2 separate regions of the Homo sapiens genome follow, and region 2 is linked to region 1. A link means that fine-mapping ties the variant in region 1 to the expression of a gene that starts in the linked region. Tissue or cell type: atrial appendage. Region 1 holds a variant in brackets; the other region holds the start of a gene. All regions are shown on one strand. Distances are between the middles of the regions.

Region 1 (7,575 bases):
TAAATGCCCACATCAGAAAGTGGGAAAGATCTAAAATTGACACCCTAACATCACAATTAAAAGAACTACAGAAGCAAGAGCAAAAAATTCAAAAGCCAGCAGAAGACAAGAAATAACTAAGATCAGAGCAGAGCTGAAGGAGATAGAGACAAAAAAAACCTTCAAAAAATCAACAAATCCAGGAGCTGGTTCTTTGAAAAGATTAACAAAGTAGATAGACCACTAGGCAGAATAGTAAAGAAGAAAAAAGAGAAGAATCAAATAGACACCATAAAAAATGATGAAGGGAATATCACCACTGATCCCACAGAAATACAAACTACCATCAGAGAATACTATAAACACCTCTACACACACACACACACACACACACACACACACAAAAAAAAAAAAAAACAACTAGAAAATCTAGAAGAAATGGATAAATTCCTGGACACATATACTCTCCCAAGACTAAACCAGGAAGAAGTCTAACCCCTGAGTAGACCAACACCAAATTGAGGTAGTAATTAATAGCCCGCCAACCAAAAAAAGCCTAGGCCCAGACGGATTCACAGCCGAATTCCACCAGAGATACAAATAAGAGCTGGTAGCTTTCCTTCTGAAACTATTCCAAACAATAGAAAAAGAGGGAATCCTCCCTAACTCATTTTATGAGGCCAGCATCAAAACCTGGCAGAGACACAACAAAAAAAGAAAATTTCAGGCCAATATCCCTGATGAACACGATGCAAAAATCCTCAATAAAATACTGGCAAACCGAATCCAGCAGAACATCAAAAAGCTTATCCACCATGATCAAGTCGACTTCATCCCTGGGATGCAAGGCTGGCTCAACATATGAAAATCAATAAACATTATCCATCACATAAACAGAACCAATGACAAAAAACACATGATTATCTTAATAGATGCAGAAAAAGCCTTTGACAAAATTCAACACCCCTTCATGCTAAAAACTCTCAATAAATTAGGCACTGATGGAACGCATCTTAAAATAATAACAGCTATTTATGACAAACCCACAGCCTATATCATACTGAATGGGCAAAAGCTGGAAGCATTCCCTTTGAAAACCAGCACAAGACAAGGATGCCCTCTCTCACCACCCCTTTTCAACATAGTGTTGGAAGTTCTGGCCAGAGCAATCAGTCAACAGAAAGAAATAAAGCGTATCAAATAGGAAGAGAGGAAGTCAAATTGTCTCCGTTTGCAGATGACATGATTGTATATTTAGAAAACCCCATCTTCTCAGCCTAAAAACTTAAGCTGATGAACAACTTCAGCAAAGTCTCAGGATACAAAATCAATGAGCAAAAATCACAAGCATTCCTATACACCAATAACAGACAAACAGAGAGTCAAATCATGAGTGAACTCCCATTCACAATTGCTTCAAAGAGAATAAAATACCTAGGAATACAACTTACAAGGGATGTGAAGGACCTCTTCAAGGAGAACTACAAACCACTGCTCAAGAAAATAAGAGAGAATACAAACAAATGGAAAAAGAATTCCATGTTCATAGATAGGAAGACTCAATATAATGAAAATGGCCATACTGCCCAAAGTAATTTATAGATTCAATGCTATTCCCATCAAGCTACTATTGACTTTCTTCACAGAACTAGATAAAACTGCTTTAAACTTCATATGGAACCAAAAAAGAGCCTGTATAGCCAAGACAATCCTAAGCAAAAAGAACAAAGCTGGAGGCATCATGCTACCTGACTTCAAACTATACTACAAGGCTACAGTAGCCAAAACAGCAACTGGTACTGGTACCAAAACAGAGATGTAGACCAATGGAACAAAACGGAGGCCTCAGAAATAACACCACACATCTACAATTGAGGGACATTCTGGCTATTACTCCTCAAAACTGGCTAAATACCTGGCTATTACTCCTCAAAACTGCTGTCATGAAATCTCTCACAGACTAGAGGAAACTGAGGGAACATGAGGACAGAATGAGATGTGCTGTCCTGAGTGGGATCCTGGAACAGAAAAAGGACATTAGTTGAAAAACTAGTGATATTAAAATACAGTCTGGATTTTGACAATAATGTGGAAATGCTAGTCTCTTAGTTTTGACAAACGTATCATGGTAATGTGAGATTTTAACCTAGAGGAACCTGGGTGAGGTGTGTATGGGAACTCTGTATCACTTTATAACTTTATTTATTTATTATTCATTTATTAATTTTTTTTTGAGACAGAGTCTCACTCTGTTGCCCAGGCTGGAGTGGAGTGGCATGATCTCGGCTCACTGCAACTTCTGTCTCCCAGGTTCCAGCGATTCTCATGCCTCAGCTTCCCAAGTAGCTGGGATTACAGGCCTGGGCTACCACACCCGGTTAATTTATTGTATTTTTAGTAGAGATGGGGTTTCACCATGTTGGCCAGGCTCGAACTCCTGACCTCAGGTGATCTGCCCGCCTCGGCCTCCCAAAGTGCTGGGATACAGGCGTGAGCCACTGCGCCTGGCCACTTTACAACTTTAACATAAATCTAAAATTATTCTGAAATTTAATAAAATTACAATGCTACCCTGTTGCTTCACCTCCCAAATTCTAGCCCGTTTTAGAACTGTTTGTAGGCTGTAGAATCTCTCATATCTGCATTATATTATGTACTATATTTCTGCTATATTGAATTTCTCCGGAGAAGAGCAAAATAC[A/G]GAATACCAAACCTCTCAAAGCTGTGTGCAAGTGCTGTTACATAGTATGACCACTAGATGGAGATCGTGTCCAGGTGGCTAAAACTTAGGCTTCCTTGACCAAGCAATGTCTTGGAGCAGAGTTCACAACCAAATCTCTTTTCTGAAATAATGCAATAGGCATGAATCTCAAGTCTCCAGATTCTAGGATGTAAGAAATACTAAAGGTCTTTGTTTTCTATAAATCCGCTTGTGTACTACTTCAGGAGCCAAAGAAAATGAAACTTCCGTCCTTCTTGGGGCAATTCTCTCTTCCATTTAACCCCAGGGAAATGAAAGGTGTCAATGTTCAGGGTTTTACCAATGAACTAGGAGCCCCTGCTGGCACTGGTTACCTGTTCTCAATGAGGACCACTGAGATGCTGAGACAGGAGATAGAAAGAAATTATTTAGGCAGATAGTGAGGGTAAAAAAGTCCTCAGCAAGGCTTCCCTTTTAACAAAAAGCAGCCCAAGAAAGCATTTTTTTCTAACAAAGAGCAGCCTGAAAATCTAGCTGCGAACATAGATAAGCAAGCTGGAAGCTTGCACGGGTGAATGCCGGCAGCTATGCCAATAGAAAAGGGCTACCTGGAAGCCAGGTATGTTCAACATGGAGGCTCCATCTTCCCTTTTCTTTGTCACCACGTGTACAGTAAAGAAATAGGCAACATGGCGCTGGCCAGGTAGAGAATTATTTGCATAATAAAAGATTAGCGTGGGGTCAGCAAGCTTTTTGGGCCCTATGCAAATGGCATACCTAGCCCTAACCAGTTTTTCGCACCTTATGCAAATGACACTAGTCCCACCAATCATTCGTACCCTATGTAAATCACACACTGTCTCCTCAAGCTCATCTATAAAACCCTCTGCATTTCACCACAGAACCGAAAAACCTGTTCAGGACCCCTATCTTCGCAACAGAGAGAGCTATTCTCTTTCTTTCGCCTACTAAACTTCCGCTAAGCTCACTCTTTATCCCCTTCCTAGTTTTCTGCCGCCGTGAGACAACAAATCTCAGGTATTTACCCCAGACAATGATGTTAATTCAATGTTCATTGTTCCTGCTCCCATGACCTCATCTGGCCTACGGCTGTCTTGCTTTAGTGTCAGGTTTGGAACCTGAGCACCTTGGCAAGGTTGGGGACCAAGGAACATAGGACAGGCCTCTCTGCTGTCCTTCTGGGTCCTTTCACATCCTCAGAGCACTCTTAGGACCCAAGGCACAGATGTCTTCTCCTCCCAGCACCCCAGGACTACTCTTTTGTTTATGCTGGCCTTGCGTCCCTCTCTTCCTCTTCAGGCTGCCCTCCAAGGCCCTCTCTTTCATTCACCTCTGTCCATCTAAAGGAAAAAATGGAGGCAGAATTGACATAAGTAGAGAGTTTATTTGGGCCAAGTTTGAGCACTGCAACCAAGGGGCAGAGACCCAAGTTGCCCTGAATCTATGCTCCCATTAACAGCAGTTACAAGTGGGTTTTTAAAGGAAGTGGGTTTTTAAAGCAGTTCCTAAGTTGCTTACCAAGAACTTACATTAAAATAACGTAAGCTATTGATGGGCTGTAGAATGTTCTTTGTGTCACAAATTTCAGAAACATAAAGACAATGGGTGAGGCAGCTCTTTGCTAGTTTTCTTTTCTGACATCAAACTCTATTCTCCTCAATGGATTTAAGCATCCATAAACAAATGTTAAGAGGAGATGGTTTGAAAGCAATACCTGCTTTCAACCTGCTATAAACCTTCCCTAAAGCAAAGAAGTACCAGCTGCTATTTTCCACAAAAGAAATAAAATGTAAACTCAAAATTCTTCAGTAAGTACCCTGTCACACCATGGAGGCACACCTCTGTGACCAGCTCATAATGGATGCCTCTATACCACCGTTTCCTATGCAAATAGGAAATAATAAAATAATAAAAATATTTAAAAATAATAAAAGCTGCTACTTGCTAGAAAATGCCTTCCTTTGTTACCTTCTCTCTGGATACCAACTCTGTGATAGACCTCAATAAGGATGAGGAGTGTCAACTCCCACAGAACAGATTGGTTGGGAAGTAACTGATCCCTGGATCGCTGCCTACGGTGGCCCTGCTTATGCAGACAGGTGGCAAAGTGAACCTTCCACAACCCTTGCTTCAGTTCATCTTAGTGAATAACCATTGAGCTTTTCCATAGGTAGAACAAACAAACGACCACTGTGATCACTGTCTAAGATTTACCCCCTGACCGTAAGGAGCTTATGCTTTCAGGGGAAGATGCATCCTTAATTGTGAGAAGGATCATGGTGTGGGTTCTCCAGTTCCACAATGACAGGTTATGTTATAGGAAGGGAAAGGTGATGCATCCCGTTGTCTTAAGAGTTTCTACCCTTCTCCAAAGGAAACAACAAAGCAGCAAGTGCCAAGTGCCCTTCCACCTGCTTCTAGATCAAGGCTGAGAACATTTAAGCAGGACTATCCCAGAAGGTAAACCAAACTGGTTTTGCCAGCTGCTGTGGATTGAATTGTACCCCCTACCCCTAAATTCAGACTTGGAAGCAGTAACGCTCGATGTGACTGTATTTTAAGATGGTATCTTTAAGAGGTAATTAAGGTTAAATCAGGTCATAAGGCAGGGCCCCGATCTGATAGGATTAGCGTCTTTACCAGAAAAGACGTCAAAGGCCAGAGAGTTCATGCATGTGGCTCCCCAGCCCCTCGGAAGAAAGGCTATCCGAGGATAAGGCAGGAAACAGCTCTCACTGGGATCAAGGCTGACACCTCGAGCCCGGACTTACCAGAACTGTGAGAAAGCACATTTCTGTTATTTATGCCACCCCGTCTGGGGTATTTGTGATGGCAGCCGAGCTGACTACCACACCACATTGCTTCATCACTCACCTGACACACACAAAGGGGTTGAGGCTGAGGAGGTCTAGGGGTACATTGATGTGGAGGATTAAGAGGGAAAGTCATGAGAGAATGAACCCTGACTTATGTCACAGGGGCTTAGAGGACACAGGAATCAGTGCCACACCTACCTTCGACATCTCTCTTCAGGGTCTGGTTGGAACAGGCAGAAGGGGGCAACGGCTGCGCTGGAGCAAGTGTGCGTGCTTGCTGGGGCCAGACGTGGCGCTGTGAAACAGAGCCCCTCTGAGAAGACTCTGTGGGGATCAAAATGCGACCCTGACGGGCCAGGCAACCAAAGCCCAGGGCCTGAGAGAGGAGTCAGAAGAAGCCCACCAGAAGAGAGGCGTGGTTGCTTCAGCTGACCTACAGCGGCAGGTCCCATGGGGGTCTGCAAGGGTCTCACACTAGCTGCCTGATACGGTTTGGTTTGTCTCCTCCAAATCTCATGTTGAAATGGGGTCCCCATTGCTGGAGGTGGGGCCTGATGGGAGGTGTTTGGGTCATAAGTGTGGATTCCTCATGGAATGACTTGGTGATCTCCTTGCAGTAATGAGTGGGTTCTTGCTCTGTTCCTTCAGGCAAGAGCTGGTTGTTTAAAGAGCCTGGCACCTCCTCCCCTCTCTCACTCCCTGTCTCATCAGTGGGACACACCTGCTCCCTCTTCACCTTCTGTGATGAGTAAAAGCATCCTAAGACCTCAGCAGAACCAGAGGCTGGCACTATGCTGCCTGTACTATCTGCAGAACTGTACAGGGAGGTCAATTATGTCCTGTCTCTCTTGGAAAATCTACATCTTATGTAAGGTAAACTAAACACATGACAAGAAGGAATGGGACAAGTCAATGAGGCATTCGTCTTAGGGTGGGCAAAGGGATGATTTCTGGTGTTGTCCTTGTCCTCTACCTGTGAAGATAGGCTGGCAAGTGACACTGTCAGGGAGAGAGTCAATAGAACTGTTTAGGGCAGTTAATCCAGGGCAAATCCGTATCCAGACAGGTCTGCAACAACCTCAATTTTTACCTCCACAGAAGAAAGAATTTGAGGGGCAGAAGGCAGAAGGAGAGAGACTGCATCAAGTGTTAGAGCAGGAGGTTTATTAAAAAGCTTTACAGCAGGAATGAAAGGAAGAAAAGCACACTTAGAAGAGGGCCAGGAGGGCATTTTGAGAGATCAAGTGCCCCGTTCGACCTTTTGACCTCGGGCTTTATGTATCGGCATATTTCTGGGATCCTGTGTTACTTCTCCCCTGATTCTTCCCTTAAGGTGGGCTGTCCATATGTGCTCACCTGAGCCCACTTGCCCAACTCCTGAGGTCTTATCAGGAAGCTGCTGATCACCAGTTTTAGGTGTTTTCTATCTACTGGAAGACTGCCCTTCCCTGGCACTGGCTGCAACCAATTATTACTTTACAGAGACAGTTAACAACCACCTGACCGTCACCACCATCAACATTCCTGGTGGTGAGGGCAGGGAGCCCTCTCCTATCCTGCTCGTGTCTGACTAGCTATCAACTGTAATACTTACAAGAAGAGCAAGAGATACCAGGCAGGCATGCACGTAGAGGAAAGACCATGTGAGGACATGGTGAGAAGGCAGCATTGGCAAACCATGGACAGAGAAACCAAACCTTCCGACTCCCTCATCTTGGACTTCCAGCCTCCAGAACTTGGTAAAAATCCATTTCTGTTGTTTAAGCCATCCAGGCTGTGGTATTTTGTTATGGCAGCCCAGACCAACTGATTCACTGCCCCTGCACACAACTCTGGTGGGATGAGCCACAGCAAAGCCAGAGAGTCAGGCATGCCCCACACCGTTGCTGGTTGCCCAGCTAGAGCAAGGCAGGGCAAGGGGAGGCTTCACACTGGTGAGTGTCTAGGATTTTGATAATTACACCAACTGTATCAGAGCTCCATCGTCATGGCCAGGCGCAGTGGGCTCATGCCTGTAATCCCAGCACTTTGGGAGGCCGAGGCAGGCAGATCACGAGC
Region 2 (7,575 bases), 490 kb before region 1:
ATGCAGCAGACACTTCCAGGAACTGAAGATTCATCAGAGAACAAAACAACAGGTCTGCTCAGCTGGGATTGATGTTCTAAATGGGAGAGACAACCAGAAAGAAAAAAGAGAAGGAGAGAGAGAGACAGATGATAGATAAATAAATAGCCAGTCAGTTAGTCTGGTATTGATAAGCACTAGAAAGAAAAATCAAACCCAATAAGGATGAGGAGAAAGAGGAGTGGTCATACTATGCCAGGTACGGTAGCCAAGAAAGACCTCACTGATGAGAGATATCTGATGAGAAATCTGAGTGGAATAAAGGCATGACTATGGGATTATATGGGGAAGGGTGTCCCAGGCAGGGCAAGAGCTCATGCCAAACCCTGGGGCAGGTATGATGGGCTGGGCTGACCCCAGAGACAGAAGGACGCCAGCGGGGTGGGAGCACCCGAGTGAGGAGACACACGTGGAAAGTGCAGTGGGAAGGGAAGCCAAGAGCAAAGGTGAGGCAGGGGAAGTCTCAAGCCCTGGCCATGTCTTAGGTGCCTTTAAACACCTGGAGACATAGTGGGCAGGGGCCAGTGACAGACGGGGCTGCACTCCTGCCCCTCTGCCTTCCTTACACAGAGGAGGATCTACCAACTGTGCTCCAACGGCCTCACTCCTTCATGTTTTCAACTATTCAAATGTTTGCTCAAATGACAAATATTGGCTCCAGTGGCTTCCATGGGCAGGCAGCAGTCTTAGCTCTAGAGACAGAAACTATGAGCAAAACTTGAAATCTTGCTTTTCATGGACCTACCTGGCCATGGAAGGAGAGAGAATACATCAAAACATAAATAAAGGCATTGGCTGGGCTACAAAGACAATCAAATAAGGTGGGCTGATAGAGTCCCCCTCTTAGATATAAAAATCCTCTTGGGCCAGGATCCTCCTGTCGCCTTATATTTCAATGCCTAGTTCTAGCATAGTCCTAACTGGTGCTCTGAGTAGCATTGCTCTAAACAATTGACCAACAGTAACCAAAGTAGGCTGGCAACAGTCCCAAGAGATCAAGAGAGCTCCCATTTTCCTCCTGGCATGAACTTTTTCAAACCACAAGGTTGAGGAAATGCCAACCTTTTACATAACTAAGAAATTTCTAAGACGTTGAGTTTTTTGTTTGCTTGGTTTGTTTTCTCTTTTTGTTTTTTAAACCTGCCACAAAATCATCTGGGGTCTTTATTAAATAAAATACAAATGTCTGGGCCCCGCCTTAGACTCACTGAATCAGAATAACTGGAGAAGGAGCCCAGGCAACTGTATTTTCAATGACCTTCTAAGGAATGTGGATGCTACATTGCTGATGCTTGAGATCCTCTGCTCTAATGCAAAAGTACAATCCACAAGGCTTCTTTCCATTTCAGTTGTAATTGTCTCCACAAAGCATTCTTAAGAAAGCTCTTCTGTAAACTTCCTTTGCAGAAACTGCAGCACTAGTCACAAGCTGACTGTTCAGAGAAATGCACGGGGAGACAGTGCCCGCATGACGGGAGCAGCCCATCAGCTGACCCGTTCATTCAAAAAACTCCACGTGTAGAGACACTGGATGGCTTTAGTGGAAGTGCCTCATTGTCTGGGGAGCTGAAGGAGAGACTTTCTGGAATATTCCCTACCTGTGAAGAGGGCATGGTAGTGGAGGCCCTTCTCCTTGTCCTGATGGGAGCAGACATCAAATAAGTAGGCTTTGATGGGCCCATCAATGAAGTCGGCAGCAAAATCAAAGAGAACGACACCTATCATGGTGACACTTATGGCCCAAACCAGCTTCCTCCTTGGGTTAGCAATCAAAGCTAAAAGAAAAATAAACATTGGTCTCCTAAATCCTGTTTTAGAATCATCCGCGTTTTGTAATTTCCACCTAAACTTCTTGCCATAAAATCATCTTCCTTGCTTTTATTTTGCTTTTTTCCAAATAAAAATAGCTTTACATTTTTTTTCAGGTTTTAAAAATTATGCAAGCGAATGTCCAGAAAACACAAATCTATGGAGACACAAAGTAAATTAGTGGTTGCTTAGGGCTGGTGCATAGGGGAAAAGTGGACGTGACTATTGATGGTAATGGGTTTATTTTGGGGGTGATGAAAATGTTGTAGAATTAGAGAGTGGTAATGGTTGCACAACATACTAAAGGCACTGAATTGTACACTTTTAATTAGTGAAATTTCTGGTATGTAAAATATCTCCTTAAATAAAAAAGTATGCATGCTTATCGCAAGCAATTCCAATTCTATTAAAAAAGCTGAGGGAGATGCTTCCAATCCCAGCCCCAGCAAAGGTCAGGCTTTAAGGCCTCCTTTTACGCACTTCTGCACATACAGACACACGTGTACAATGGTAGTCAAACGCAGTGCTTCTCAAAGTCTGGCATATTGAACTATCGCTTGTATGTCTTGTTAAAACACAGATTGCTGGCCCCATTTCCCAAGACTCTGATTCAATTGGTGGGCCTGAAGGGGGCCCGAGAAACTGCATCTCTAACGGTCTCTGCTGATGCTGAGGGGCAGGTCAGAGGCCACATCTTTGAACAGCACTGATGCAGTAACCAACTTTCTTCATATAATTTCAGCTCCTCACAATTTTTAACAGCTGGATTTTCATTCTACGGATACGCTGTAATCGTTTACCCAATCTCCTATAAAAGATACATTGTTGTTTCTCTTGTTTCCATTTGCTTTTTAAACTTAAGAATAGCATAGATTATATACACGTTTTAAAAATTGCAGTATAAAATTAAATGAACAATAAGTCTACCCGCCACTTCTCACCTCCTGTCCTTCAGTAATCCTCCTTAGAGTCAACAATGCTTATCAGCTTTTTGTTCATTCTCCTGGAAATATCCTACATTTGTACATTTACGCTTTCTTTCAAATATGTACAAATGATAATTGATTATCCTGCCTCATAATCACCGATTCTGCTAGCTTGAGAGTTAATGATCTACAAATGTGTGCTATTTTTAGCGATCCTTTTTGCAATGCAACTTTATTGTACTACCATCAATTACTGATTAATTGGTAGCTGATTAATGGCTAGAAAAAATGCCTACCCTCAGGTTTGCTTTTGTCCAGAATTTGCAATGCCAGAAAGGTCCTCTTGAGCTGATGGGCTTATGCCCTACGCCTATTAAAACGCTCTACATAAAACTATGAACAGAATTAACTTATTTGGATACACAGGTGACTTATTGTAAATATTTATGGAGCTATTTGGCAGCCAGTCAATTTGATAAGAGTATTAAATAGAGCATAATGGGCTCAAAAAGTAACTCAATTGATAAATATGTAAAAATATTCAATTCGATAAAATAGATACAAATTTAATAAAATAGATACAAATTTAATCCTATTTTTAAATCTTCACAACAATGAAACATATTTATTTTGATATTTCTAGAAGTAGAGGCTCCCCAACCACAGAATCTGGGCCAAATTTGTCAAAGGGGAAGTTCATTGTAACCTAGGAGAGATCAATTCTAACAAATTTCTAGGAAAGGTCAAACACATGAACATCCTCCTCCTGCAGAGGTACACACTAAGACACATATCCCTGTCTGCCCACCTTGTGCAGCCCACTTACCTGCTACAACAGTAGCCCCATTGAGGTACAGAGCCATGCCCACGAGCATCATGACTCCCAGGGTGAGGATGTAGGGTCTCCGGCGGCCCCACCTGGACCGGCAGTGGTCGCTGGCCGATCCGACCACGGGCTGCAGCAGGAATCCCAGGATGGGGCTGAGGAACCACACAATGCTGTACAGGCTGCTGGGCAGACCTACGCTGAGCAGGACTGGGGTCACATACGCTGCCTCCACCGCGTAGCAGAACTCTCTTCCGAACATGGCCATGCTGTGCATGATGAGTCTGCTGGTGGGTCTTTTAGGCGGCTCCACAGAGTCAAAGGGGCCATCATCAGCTAGGGATTTATAGATGTGGCGGCCAGCCTGCCCACTGTTGCTACCCATGGCCACTGGGAGAGGAACCTTCCTGCGAGCCCACCACCTCCTGCGTGGTCCTAGGGTCTGTGTTTCAAACTGGATTTGACGTGGAGCCTGGCCGAGCAACCAACAGAGATGGTCAGGCTGGGGGAGGGGCTCAAATTCTTTCCTGCCTCTAAGATCACAAGTTATGATGAGAGGGAGGGGGTGGTGCTGGAAAGCATGACAGAGATTAGCAGCTGTGAATCAGCCCTCTGGCTCCATAAGACGTTGGAATACTTTTCTAAAGGGATCCTCCTTTGTACTGTTCCCTCTCTCTTTCTCTCTCTCTCACACACACACACAATTACACGTGATCACACACATGGCTTCTCTCCCTCTCACACACACGTTATTACACGTGATCACACACATGGGCTCTCTCAGACAGTATTACACATGATCACACACATGGTTTCTCTCTCACACACACATGCTATTACACATGATCACACACGTGGCTTCTCTCACACACACATTATTACACATGATCACACACATGGCTTCTCTCACACACACGCTATTAAACGTGATCACACCTGGCTTCTCACACACACATGCTATTACACATGATCACACACGGCTTCTCACACACATGCTATTACACATGATCACACACATGGCTTCTCTCACACACATTACACATGATCACACATGGTTTCTCACATACATGCTATTACACATGATCACACACGGCTTCTCTCATGCATGTTATTACACATGATCATACACATGGCTTCTCACACACATGCTATTACACATGATCACACATGGCTTCTCTCACACACATTACACATGGTCACACATGGCTTCTCTCACATGCGTTATTACACATGATCATACATGGCTTCTCTCTCACATGCTATTACACATGATCACACATGGCTTCTCATGCATTTTATTACACATGACCACACACATGGCTTCTCTCACACACGTTATTACACATGGTCACACATGGCTTCTCTCACGTTATTACACATGATCATACATGGCTTCTCTCACACATTATTACACATGACAGCTTCTCTCTCACACACTATTGCACATGATCACACATGGCTTCTCTCACACACACATGCTATTGCACATGATCACACATGGTTTCTCTCTCACACACGTTATTACACAACGATCACACACGGCTTCTCTCTCATACACATTATTACACATGACCACACACATGGCTTTTCTCTCACACACACTATTACACATGATCACACATGGGGCTTTTCTCGTTATTACACATGATCGGACTCATGGCTTCTCTCACACACACATGCTATTACACATGATTGCACACATAGCTTCTCTCTCACACACGTGTTATTACACATCACACACGGCTTCTCACACACGTTATTTTACACGATCACACACATGGCTTCTCTCACACACGTTATTTTACATGATCACACACATGGCTTCTCTCTCACAGACGTTATTACACATAATTACATATGGCTTCTCTCTCTCATACACACATGCTATTACACATGATCACACACATGGCCGTGAGGTAATAAAGCCTTATTACATAGAGTTTGTCAAAATGTAAATAAATTGATATCTTTTCATAAACTTTTTATAAATATAGACATTCTATTTTTTACTACAAGTTTTCCACACACACAGCTCAGGAGTGAAATAACTAGATTTAAAATGGTGGCAGGTCACACCCTTCTTCAAATCATTAGCTGTGTCAGATCGCCCTGATATTTCTCCTCGTGGTACTTAACACATTTTACAATGAGATAATTCTGGGTTTATTCCATATCCTGTGTTTGTCTTTGATTTCCTCAAGAGCGGAGAACAGGTCTGTTTTGTTCATTATGGTATCCCCAGCAAGTATCATGATACCTGGCACCTAGTAGATCCTCAATAAACATTTGCTAAAGGAATTACTGAGTGAATAAACCATACACACTGCATTTTGTGCTGCCTGTCTGCTCAGATCTATTTCCTTTGGTGCTCTTTATCTTATGGGGCTACATTTCCAGGGTTCCCTTGTTTTCTGGCTTCTAGGTAGATTTGGCTAATGGGAGACACTGGTAGGAAGACTAGGGGAGAGAGAGAAGGAAAGAAGCCAGGATATTTCCCTAGATTTCTTTCTTCTCCCTGAGGTATTACTGCCAGTGTCTATGTCTCCAAGGTGGGTGCAGCAACTTTGGCTTCTGGGTCCAAGTACACCAGCTTTCCCATCACCCCTGCAACCATAGGAGTGGTCTTGGCTTCCTAGTTATGTTCCTATCAGGGTTGCCTCACTATCTTCTGGGCTTCTCTGCTCTTTCGTCACCAGTGGAATTCTTTATATTAAATTTCCTCTGTTTTAAAGACTTCGAGTGGGTTATATTTTCCTTGCTGGACCGAGTTCAAATGAAAAGTCTGAGTTGTAGGGAAAACATCTTTTTTATTATTATTATTTTTATTTATTTATTTAGAGACAGGTTCTTGTTCTGTTGCCTGGGCTAGAGTGCAGTGGTGCAATCCTAATTCACTGTGGCCTCAAATTCCTGGGCTCAAGTGATCCTCCTGCCCCACCCTTGAGTAGATAGGACTACAGGCACACACCACCATACCTGGATAATTTTTTTATTTTTATTTCGTAGAAACGGAGGTCCAGCCAAGTTCCCCAGGCTGGTCTCGAACTCTTGGCCTCAAGTGATCCTCCATGCCTGGGCTGGAAAACATAACCTTATGGGAAAGTTCCTAAAAATGGTTGAAGAACAAGACTGAAGGCTAGAATATGAAAGCTTAAATTCTGATTCTGCCCCTTCCTAGTTGCATATTCCTGAGCAAATATTTTCAACTGGTATTTCTAAAACTGTGCCAAGGCACCCAGGGCATTAGAGTGACCTCACAAGAGTATCTCAGAATATTTAAAAATTTGAACACACAAACACAATGAAACTCAACATCTGTCAGACATCACGTGAACTACTAGTGAGGTAGTTCATTCTTTCAACATAAGATTGCACTATAATCCTTCTGATAATTTCATATTTTTGTGAGACTGGGTTTTCCAGGCCATCTGATAAAAAATCAAGTACTATATGGACACCAACATGGAGCAGAAAATGAGGGCAGCAGTGTCCAATCTCATTCCAGGTGAGAAGTTGCACAGTGTCCAATAGGTGCATACATCTCCTTAGTAAGTAGTTGTGATTAACAATGAAATAGAAATGAAAAATATATTTTTTTATTTATGTGTATTATATTTTTCAAGCAGCTAATAAGTTGGTAGGACATAATATTTAATTCGTTGGGGACCTAATTATTTATAAATTGAATGGTTAGATATTTCTTTTGGCCTAAGCCACCATGAAAAAATCACTGAGGCGCTAAGGGAAACATGAACTAAGAAGCCCTTCTGAGTCTCTGTTTTCTCAACTGTAAGATGAAGAAACCTGCTCCACCTTCCTCTTGCGATTGTTGAACGGCAGTTGAGATACTGCGCAGAATGGACCTTATTGATGGCCTACCCAACATCCATTCTCTACTCCCTCTACTCTGATGGCACCCGGATTAGATTGTGGAATCTACCCCTTCCTCACATGCCTTTAGGAAGTTGAGTCCAG

Direction of the effects. Alleles are on the strand shown, and positions count from the first base shown. SD is a standard deviation of normalised expression in the study named.
As copies of G replace A in region 1, the expression in atrial appendage of the gene that starts at base 4,095 in region 2 goes up (moderate effect, 0.55 SD a copy in GTEx).

The links. PIP is the estimated chance that this variant, and not a neighbour inherited with it, causes the effect.
Region 2: SLC45A2 starts here. The variant in region 1 is the best candidate, but not a certain one, in a credible set for the expression of SLC45A2 in atrial appendage (GTEx, PIP 0.56).

Annotation. Positions count from the first base shown.
Region 1 is chr5:34,471,951-34,479,525 of GRCh38, forward strand. No RefSeq gene overlaps it. Among named protein-coding and RNA genes, the nearest start is that of RAI14-DT, 180 kb to the right of the region's middle. The variant A/G (reference allele first, on the strand shown) is at 2,681.
Region 2 is chr5:33,980,599-33,988,173 of GRCh38, forward strand. SLC45A2 (solute carrier family 45 member 2) reads right to left here and starts at 4,095. Exons shown (of 7, transcript NM_016180.5): 1 at 3,601-4,095; 2 at 1,638-1,814. The coding sequence starts at 3,985. AMACR (alpha-methylacyl-CoA racemase) reads right to left here. Exons shown (of 5, transcript NM_014324.6): 5 at 5,567-7,575. It overlaps C1QTNF3-AMACR (C1QTNF3-AMACR readthrough (NMD candidate)), which reads right to left. Exons shown (of 9, transcript NR_037951.1): 9 at 6,388-7,575.